Linked DNA regions of Homo sapiens: region 1 is linked to region 2. The links come from fine-mapping of genetic effects on gene expression. A gene starts in region 2. The other region holds a variant in brackets. All regions are shown on one strand. Distances are from middle to middle.

Region 1 (5,375 bases), 54 kb after region 2:
GAAAAAGCGCCACCACCACCACCTCCCAAACTAAAACAGCAACCCCTGCTCCTCTCTATCCACTTGCCCTATTTTATTTAATTTTATTTATTTTGAGACACAATCTCACACTGTTGCCCAGGCTGGAATGCAGTGGTGCAATCTCAGTTCACTGCAATCTCCACCTCTTAGGCTCAAGCAATTCTCCCACCTTAGCCTCCCAAGTAGCTGGAATTACTGGTGCACACCACCACCACGCCTGGCTAATTATTGTACTTTTTTGTAGAGATAGGATCTCACTGTGGTGCCCAGGCTGGTCTCAAACGCCTGGCCTAAGCGATCCACCCACCTTGGCCTCCCAAAGTGCTGGGATTACAGGCGTGAGCCCCTGCACCTGACCTATTTTACTTTTTATAGCTTTTATCTCTGCCTGACATTAAATGCCATATCAGGTTTTTTTTATTATTATTATTGCCCATCTCCCTCCAATAGGATTTAGCCCAACAAAGGAAAGGATGTCTCTGTGCAAACAGCCTGGTACATAGTCCATGCTTGACAAATATTTGTTAAATGATTGAATGGCTTGGAAAAACCCAGATGAATGAGGTGAGGAGGGTGGGGACGGGTATCCAAGCACAGGGAACAGCCTATGGAAAGGTCTGGAGCTTCTCCGATCCACCTGCCTCCTCTCCTGCATGGAAGCCTAGGTGCTTTTTTTTTCTGAGACAGAGTCTCACTCTGTCACCCAGGCTGGAGTGCAGTGGTGTGATCTCGGCTCACAGCAACCTCTGACTTCCGGGCTTAAGTGATTCTCCTGCCTCAGCCTCCTAAGTGTCTGGGATTACAGGTGCCCACCACCACACCGGGCTAATTTTGTATTTTTTTTAGTAGAGGTGGGGTTTCTCCATGTCGGTCAGGCTGGTCTCGAACTCCCGACCTCAGGTGATCCACCCGCCTCGGCCTCCCAAAGTGCTGGGATTATAGGCGTGAGCCACCACGCCTGGCCACCTGGGTGTTCTTTCTAGGGTCAGGAATTAAGGGGACATTTGGTCCTTTCTCCCCAAGAACAACCTCTCCAGGCCCAGCCAGAGCCAACTCCAGGCCTTGACAGGCCGGCACAGGAAGCCACACCCTGAGCAAATATGACGGCCCCCTCTGCCTCGCCCAAGATAAGGGGAGGTTGAAAGGGGTTTGGAAACCTGCTTCAGCCTAAGACATTAGCTCCAGCCAAACCCTCAGTCTCAAGGCCTCCCCACCCCTGCCCAGAGAGGACAGGACAAGGATTCTGCCACGGAGGCCCAAGTCTGACGTTTACATCTAATATATATTGATGATGTCAGTGGTGGGCAGGGTCTTGAAGAGCAGATAAAGGAGTTCCCAGCCTCCCTCCCGCTCCCAAGGAAACTAAGTGACTGGTGAGACAAGAGGGCTGGGCGGGCAAGGGGTGACCCTGACCAAACAAGGTCATAGACCCGTGTCCCCAGATGGCTGTGCAGAGAAGATAAGACTCATCTGCTCCAATCTTATGAGGCAATGGCCCGGGGCCTCAGTTTACTTGTCTGCAAAATGGGTTTTCTTGGGGGTGGGCAGCGGGGAGATGGATAACAGGAAAAGCTGAAGCTGTCAAAAAGAATAATGGGCCAGGCACGGTGGCTCACACCTGTAATCCCAGCACTTTGAGAGGCCAAGGCAGGTGGATCACTTGAGGTTAGGAGTTTGAGACCAGCCTGGCCAACATGTCAAAACCCTGTCTGTACTAAAAATATTAAAATTAGCCAGGCATGGTGGCGCATGCTTGTAATCCCAGCTACTCGGGAGGCTGAGGTGAGAGAATCGCTTGAACTTGGGAGGTGGAGGTTGCAGTGAGCCAAGATCGCACCACTGCACTCCAGCCTGGATGACAGATCAAGACTCCATTTAAAAAAGAAGAAGAAGAAGAAGAAGAAGAAGAATGATATCAGCAGAATACATCTACAAGCTGACCACTTCTCCCATCCCTGGTTCAGCCGCCACTACCTCCTGCCTGGTCCAGCACTACCCAACAGGAGCAAGAGTGGAGCCGCAAACACAATTCAACCTTTTCCAGCCTCATCTCATGAAGAAAGGTGAAACGAATGTATTTAACACAACATATGCAAAATGTCATTTCAGCACAGAATCAATATAAAAAACTGATTATCTGTTTTACATTATTGTGTATGCATGCGCTCTTTTTTTTTTTTTTTTTTCTTAATGAGACAACAAGGTCTTGCTCTGTCGCCCAGGCTGGAGTGCAGTGGTGAGATCACAGCTCACTGCAGACTCAACCTCCTGGGCTCAGGCGATCCTCCTACCTCAGCCTGCCAAATAGCTGGGACTACAGGCGTGCAACACCACTCCTGGCTCATTTTTAAATTTTTTTGTAGAGACGTGCTCTACGCTGCCCAGGCTGGTCT[C/G]GAACTCCTGGGCTCAAGCCATCCTCCCGCCTCAGCCTCCCAAAATGCTGGGATTACAGGTGTGAGCCACCGCGCCCGGCCCCCCTTATTGAACCTCTACTCCAATGTCGCTCTGACAATGTCGCCTTGCTGCCCTGCATAAACCAGTGCCCCGACCACCTCCATCCCTTCCCCTGCTTTATTTTTCTCCACAGCATTGTCCCCACCTGTTCTAACACTGCTCATGTTTGTATTCGTCTATTAACTGTCTCCCCAATCAATAGGTCAGCTCTGTGTCTACCGTATTCACGGCTGTAACCCCACAGCGCCTAGCGCAGTGCCCGGCACATAGTTGGTGCTCCATAAACATTTGTCAAATGGTGGAGGAACAACGACCACTGTGCCCCCAGTACGTGCTCTGAGGCAGGCCCGGCACGGAACACTCCATGTGCCTATTTTGATCCTCAGAAGAGTCCCAGGGAAGTCAATGTCATGAACACCCCCCACCCACTGCACAAACAGGAAAAAGCCCCTGCCCACAAGAACCCCGTCTGCTTTCTGCGCAGCCCGGCGGCGCACAGCAGGTGCTAAAGAGCCTGCAGCTCTTGACTGAACCAAGGATCTGGGCTCACAGCCGGGAGCACCAGAGGAGGGGCCAGGGAGGTGGAGGATGGGGGCAGACTAGGAAGGGTGGATGTGACGATAGAGGGCCTCTAGAGCCCGGCCTGGTCACACTCCGCAGGCAGACAGCAGATCACCAGGAACCTGAGCCTCTCTGAAGACTCCTCTCTCTGTGTCATCCACACCTGGTGTCCAGTTCCACAAACATGCTGTGAGCCTCTGCTCTGTGCCAGGTGATTTGCTGGGCAGTGCTGGGGACACAGTGGTGACAGCCCAGCCGTGCCCAGCTGAGGCTCCCAGGCCAGTGGGGGAAAAAGACCCAGCCCCAGACAGCGAGAACCCAAGGCAGTCAGGGCTGAGACAGGGAATTCCAGGCCCTGAAGTCCAGGAGGGCTTCCTGGAGGAGAGGGTTTGGGGAAGGCAGTGGAATAGAGCAGAGGGAAGCAGGGATATTCTGGGTAGAGTGCAAGTGAAACAGAAGAACTGAAGCAGAGGGTTCCCGGAAGCAAGTGGTATTCTATGTAGCTGGTCAGGTGGGCAGGAGTCAGGCCGGGCAGGGCCTCCTGGGCTACAGTGAGGAACCTGGGCTTCCTCCCAAGGGCACTGGGGAGCCACAGCAGGTTCTGAGCACGGAGGGGCAGAGGCAGGTTTTTGTTTTGGAAAGAGCCTCTGTCTGCCATGTGGAGGGGCAATGGGAGTCGGGGAGACCAGGGCCAGAGACTAGGGAGGAGGCTGGTGGGGAGACAGGAGGACCCAGGCAAGGTGGGGTGGTGGAGTGGTCACCTAGACCAGGGCAGGGGCTTCAGGGAGGGAGAGAAGATATACGTAGAGTCAGTTGCCAGAAGGGGTGGCGTGTTCGGGGAGTAGGGGGAGGCATCAGGGATGAGGCCCCAGGTCTCTTTTCCCAGCGATGAGGTGGGTAGTGGCGCCTTCCCTGATAAGGGCACCAGGGGAAGATACACTTCTGGGGGAAGATGCCAAGGTCAGTTTGGGACAAGGTGAGTGAGAGGTGCCCAGGGACATCAGGGAGGCATCCTGATTGATACTGGGATGAGGTCCCAGTGCTCTGGGCCAGGACGCAGAAGAGTGAGGTGAGGTCACAGGTGGGGAGAGGGGAGCAGGAGGCGCCAGGACATCCTCTGTGCCTCTCACCTGGCCTCACCCGCACCTCCTCAGGGCCTTCTCCCCCTTGTTAGAGCCCTGCCCCACGAGGGCAGCCCAGGACACAGTGCTGGAGGCAAACCAGGACAGGTGAGCACAGGTGTGGCCCCCTGCCCGGAAGCAGGCTGCAGAGGCCTCAGAGGAACCAGGACTCAGAAGCCATCAGGATGCAGGTCATAAGAACACAGCTATCAGCAGCTCTGGCACCACAACCCCCTCGGCTCCTGCCCAGCATCATCTCAGAGACACCTTCCCTGTTACCCTCCCTCCACCCCAATTTAAAGTAGCAAACCAGGCCAGGGGCAGTGGCTCATGGCTGTAATCCCAGCACTTTGGGAGGCCAAGGTGGGAAGATCACTTGAGGCCAAGAGTTTGAGACCAGGCAGAGCAACATAGCGAGATCCCATCTCTACAAAAAATAAAATGGCAAATCCCCTTTCTGACTTTATTTTTCAATCTGACGTGGAAGATATTTACCTTTCCTTTATTTACTCCGCAAATGTCGGCCCCCTGAGGGCAGGGATTTCATCCGTCTTGTGCACGGCTGCATCCTCAGCGCCTAGAACAGCACCTGGCAAACAATAGGTGCTCATTCAGTATTTGTCCAATAAGTGAATGAGTGATTTACTGAGCATTTACTCTGCGCCAGTCGTGGTAAGTACTGTACTTCACATGTGTATCTACTTAATCCTTTCAACAGCCCTGTGATGTGAGTACTATTGTTTTCCCTATTTTACAAATAAGGAAACTGAGGCTTGGCAGAGTCCATAAATTGCCCAGGGTCCTGGAGGTAGGAAACAGTGGAACTATGTCCAGAGCCTATACTTTTTTTTTTTTGAGATGGAGTTTCACTCTTTTGCCCAGGGTTCAAGCAATTCTCCTGCTTCAGCCTCCCAAGTAGCTGGGATTACAGGTGCCCGCGACCACACCCAGCTAATTTTTGTATTTTTAGTAGAGACAGGGTTTCACCATGCTGGCCAGGCTGGTCTTGAACTCCTGACCTCAGTTGATCCACCCACCTCGGCCTCCCAAAGTGCTAGGACTACAGGCATGAGCCACTGCGTCCGGCCATGAGCCACCACGCCCGGCCAGAGCCTATACTTTTAATAACAGGCATACCAATCAGACCCACGTCCACCAGGCTCTGGCTTAAATCCCTGACTTGTAGCCTCTCACTAACTGCTGTCAACAAACCTGAAG
Region 2 (5,372 bases):
GTGCATGGCCTTTGGCCCAGCAAATCAGCTTCTGGGAATAAATATGACAGATACTGTTACATACATGGGAAATGCCATGGACATGATGACCCAGGGAAGCACAGTTTGCAAGTACAAAAGGGCTGGAAACACCCAAAAAGCCCATCCCCTGAAGACAGTTTCAAAAATGACGGTGCATTCATGTAATGGAATAGTACACATTTGTGAATGAATGAATGAGGTAGCTCAATATATCTGCCTATGGGAAAATCACCAAGATATGTTGCTAAGTGAAAAACAGAAAGATACAGAATAATGCTACCATTTTATTTTTTAATGGGAGAGGGAAGAATAAGGAAATGGATTCATATTTGCTTAATTACACAAGCTTCCTGATGATCCTTTTGGATCCAGAAGTTTGAAAACCACAGCATCAAGAGGATGCCCATTGGGCATGGTGGCTCACGCCTGTAATCCCAGCACTTTGGGAGGCTGAGGAGGGTGGATCGCCTAAGTTCAGGAGTTCGAGACCAGCCTGGCCAACATGGTGAAACCCCATCTCTACTAAAAACACAAAAAAATTAGCTGGGTATGGTGGTGCAGGCCTGTAATTCCAGCTACTTGGGAGGCTGAGGCGCAAGAATCACTTAAGCCTGGGAGGCGGAGGCTGCCGTGAGCCGAGATCACGCCATTGCACTCCAGCTTGGGAGACAGAGCAAGACTGTCTCAAAACAAACAAACACACACAAAAAATAAGATGCCCATTGGAGATCTCCATTCACTATTTTATCAGATGATATTTCAGCACTTGAGTGAAGAAAATGTCTACAACTGGTCCAAACACTCAAGGAATTTAGACTCTTGACAGAGAAACACACAGAAGCAAGCAGATATGCCCCGAACCAAACTTGCTTTTTCTTCTAAGCCTGCTTCTTCGGAGCAGCCTCTGACCCTCCAGGGCCCTGAGAGGAGTCCCTGGAGCCACAGGAGCTTGGGAGCCCAGAGAAGTGGGGGAATCCCAGATGGTGACAGCATCATCCAGAGGAGGAACATAACGATGGCCACAGATTCCCAATTTGGAAATAACTCAGCAAAACAACACTGACAGAAAATTCAGAGATTTCCAAGAGACTAGCCTCCCTGTTTCCATTTAGAAATTCACCTACATACATCCAGGGTGAGAGACCCCAAGCATCAGATGTGTCATACACAAGCATCAGATCCAAGTTAGAGAGGGCACCCGGGGACAGAAACCTCCAAGCCAGCCAAAAGCCAAAGGAAGGATTTTACAGAAAGATACAGGAATGTGGGGCCAGGCACAGTGGCTCATGCCTGCAATCCTAGCACTTTGGGAGGCCGAGGTGGGAGGATCGCTTGCGGCCAGGAATTCAAGGCCAGCCTGAGCAACATAGCGAGATCCTATCTCTACAACAAATTTAAAAACTAGCTGGGTGTGATCACATATGCCTGTGGTCCCAACTACCCAGGAGGCTGAGGCAGGAGTTGAGCCCAGGAGGTGGAGGCTGCAATGAGCAATGATGGCGCCACTTCACTCCAGCCTCAGTGAAATAGTGAGACCCTGTCTAAAAATAATAATAAAAATAAAAAACATATAAAGATGTCAGAGCACAGGGACCAGAGCTGTTAGTCGGCCTCATGGAGACCCTGGCCAGGACAGCCACCTCTGGGGACCAGGAAGTCTCTCAGTTTCTGTCTCTGAGGGTTTGGCTCTCTGAGTCTCTCTGTCACCTCTCATTTCTCTCTCATCTCCCTCTGTCTATGCTGTGTCTCTATCTCTTTCAATCTCTCTGTCTCTGTCTCCCAGCCCTTATCTCTGAGTGTGTCTGTTTCTCTCTCATTTCTCTCTCTCTCTCTCTCTCTTTCTCTCTCTCTCTTTCTCTCTCTCTCTTTCTCTCTCCCCCCTCCCTCCTCCCCTCTCCCTACTGCAGGCTGGTCCATAACCCTTATCTTCCCCAGACCTGATGGAGTTCTGGTATTAATCTGTTTATGGTCTGTTTCCCTCCACTAGAACACGGTCTTCATTAAAGGCAGAGATTTTTGTCTGTCTTATTTTCTGCTGTATACCCAGTGCCTGGGATACTGGCTGGATCAATAAATATATGCTGAATGAAGAATGAATGAATGACCATTCTCATGAACATTATTATTTGATGCCAACTGTAAAGCAACAATAATAATAATTGTCACTGCCACTGCTGCTATTGTTGGTATATCAGCTTTTTATTTAGTACAAACTATATCCCCGAAATTGAGCTAGGCAGTTTCTTGTTTAAGTTTTACAGACCACGCTGTGAGGTAAGTACTGTTAGTATGCCCTTTTTTCTTTCTTTTTGAGACAGAGTCTCACTCTGTCGCCCAGGCTGGAGTGCAGAGGCCCGATCTTGGCTCACTGCAACCTCTGCCTCCCGGGTACAAGTGATTTTCCTGTCTTAGCCTCCCCAGTAGCTGGGATTACAGGCATGTGCCACCATGCCGGCTAATTTTTGTATTTTTAGTAAAGATGGGTTTTTGCCATGTTGGCCAGGCTGGTCTTGAACTCCTGGACCTCTGGTGATCCTCCTGCCTCGGCCTCCCAAAGTGCTGGGATTACAGGCGTCAGCCACTGCGCTTGCTCCCCCAGCCCCCAAACTTTTTTTTTTTTTTTTGAGACAGGTCTGGCTCTGCCACCCAAGCTGTAGTGTAGTGGCGCAATGGTAGCTCACTGAAGCCTCTAACTCCTGGGTTCACACAGTCCTCCTGCCTCAGCCTCCCAAAATGCTGGAATTCAGGCCTGAGCCACCGCGCCCTACTATGCCCATTTTTCAGATAAAGAATCTGAGGGCCCTCGAGGAGAAACCACTTGCCCAACATGAGCCCTGGTCTTGTCTGACCCCAAAGCCCATGGGAAGTTTAGGCTGCGTGGAAGGACAGCCTGGTGGGCTCAGGATCTGTCCCATCACGAGTTGGAACCTCAGCTCTGCCACTCGGCAACCGCGAGCCGTTAGTAAGTTGCTGAATCTCTCCGTGTGCCTCCGTTTCCTCACCTGGAATGTGGGCGACCTCACACAGGAAGCCGCCTCTTCTAGTGGGCACCGACGGAGCGAGCGCGCGTCTGCAGCGGGACTGAGCGCCGGGAGAGACCTGCGCAGGCGCAGGCGCGCGGGGAGGGCCAGCCTGGGTGGCCCACCCCGCGCCTGGCGGGACTGGCCGCCAACTCCCCTCCGCTCCAGTCACTTGTCTGGAGCTTGAAGAAGTGGGTATTCCCCTTCCCACCCCAGGCACTGGAGGAGCGGCCCCCCGGGGATTCCAGGACCTGAGCTCCGGGAGCTGGACTCGCAGCGACCGCGGCAGAGCGAGCGGGCGCCGGGAAGCGAGGAGACGCCCGCGGGAGGCCCAGCTGCTCGGAGCAACTGGCATGGCCCGAGCCATGGCCGCCGCGTGGCCGCTGCTGCTGGTGGCGCTACTGGTGCTGTCCTGGCCACCCCCAGGAACCGGTGAGTGACCCCCGCGCAGTCCGGTGGCCCCTGTCTGGCTCCCAGCTCCGCATCCAGGCCGGGTACTCGCCCCCTTGGGTTCCCGAAGATGACGGCCCCGCCCGGCGCCACCCACCCCCCATCTCTGCCCCGGGGTTGGAAGGAACACGGTGCGAGGGTGCGAGGGCAGGACCCTCCTCTTGGCCACCCGGAGAGCGGTCGGAGTTGGGTACAGAAATTCCTCGAAATTGGCAGCAACACGGGTCGGGCACAAGACCCTCCTCTGGGCCCCTCGGAAAGGGGATGGAGTTGGGTGAGGAAATTTCCCAAAAAGGCAAGTGAATCCCGGAAAATCAGCAGATGGTGACGCATGCCGGATTACCTTACCCAGGTTCCTGCTCAGCATACCCAGGCCATAACCCAGCAGCGTGCTGGCAGGCTGGGTCTGGACGGAGGGGATGGTTGATGTTGGGGAGGAGGACAGTGGGTGACACTTGACACCATTACCCCTCTGACCCCCAATGTCTGACTCCAGGGGCCTGGCCATTCATTCATTCTTTCATTCTTTTTTTTTTTTTTTTGAGACAGTCTCACTCCATCACCCAGGCTGGAGTGCAGTGTCCTGCTCTCGGCTCACTGCAGCCTCCTCCTCCCGAGTTCAAGCGATTCTCCTGCTTCAGCCTCCCGAGTAGCTCGGATTACAGACATGTGCCACTATGCCTGGCTAATATTTTTGTATTTTTAGTAGATACAGGATTTCACCATGTTGGCCAGGCTGGTCTCAAACTCCTGATAAATATATATATTATATATTATTATTATATATTACATATTATAGTAATATATAATAAAAATATATAATATATATTATAGTAATATATAATATATAATAAAATATATAATATATATTATAGTAATATATAATATATAATAAAATATATAATATATATTATAGTAATATATAATATATTATAATATATTATATATATTATTATAATATATAATATGTATATTATATATTATATATATTATTATAATATATAATATGTATATTATATATTATATATATTATTATAATATATAATATGTATTATGTATTATATAATTGATAATATATAATAATATATTTCTTAATAAATATATATTAAATATATTATATATTTATAACATATATTATTTATATAATAAATAATATATATTTTATTATACATTTAAAGAGTAAATAGATAACATATTTTATTATTTATTTATATGTTTTGTGTATATATATATATATATATATATATATATAGTGCGTGTGTGCGTGTATGTGTGTGTGTGTATGAGAGAGACAAGGTCTTGCTTTGTTGCCCAGGCTGGAGTGCAGTGGTACAATCCCGGCTCATTGCAAACTCGACTTCCCAGGCTCAAGCGATCCTCTCACTGTGGCTTCTGGAGTAGCTGGGATTATAGGTGCTCACCTGGCTAATTTTTTTTGTATTTTTGGTAGAGACAGGGTTTCGCTATGCTGCCCAGGCTGGTTGCAGCCAAGCACAGTGGCTCATGCCTGTAATCCCAACACTTTGGGAGGCTGTGGTGGGAGGATCACTTGAGCTTAGGAATTCAAAACCAGCCTGGGCAATATGGCAAGACCCCATCTCTACAAAAATAATTAACTAAATAAAAATTTAAAAATAAAAAAGAATGCATAGGACCATGTTTATTAGTGTCAATAAGCGCTGTCACATTTTGAGGACCTACTATGTGCTAGGGCCCTTAGCAGAAAGATTTTTATATAGGACCTGGGGGATTAGAGGTCAGTCTCTGACCGCCCAAGTTCAAATCCCACCTCTGCCACTAAACCTCTGTATGACTTGGAGGACACTATACTCTGTGTCAGTTTCCCTGTCTGTAAAATGATGTTAACAGTAGTGCTTGCCT

The links. PIP is the estimated chance that this variant, and not a neighbour inherited with it, causes the effect.
Region 1: its variant is the best candidate, but not a certain one, in a credible set for the expression of PVR in tibial artery (GTEx, PIP 0.73).

The regions. Positions count from the first base shown.
Region 1 is chr19:44,694,432-44,699,806 of GRCh38, forward strand. It overlaps CEACAM16 (CEA cell adhesion molecule 16, tectorial membrane component), which reads left to right and starts at 4,720. Exons shown (of 7, transcript NM_001039213.4): 1 at 4,720-4,829. CEACAM16-AS1 (CEACAM16, CEACAM19 and PVR antisense RNA 1) reads right to left here. Exons shown (of 2, transcript NR_186815.1): 2 at 4,607-4,746. RefSeq lists an enhancer at 2,287-2,892. The variant C/G (reference allele first, on the strand shown) is at 2,415.
Region 2 is chr19:44,640,703-44,646,074 of GRCh38, forward strand. It overlaps PVR (PVR cell adhesion molecule), which reads left to right and starts at 3,208. Exons shown (of 8, transcript NM_006505.5): 1 at 3,208-3,473. The coding sequence starts at 3,395. RefSeq lists a silencer at 3,160-3,239.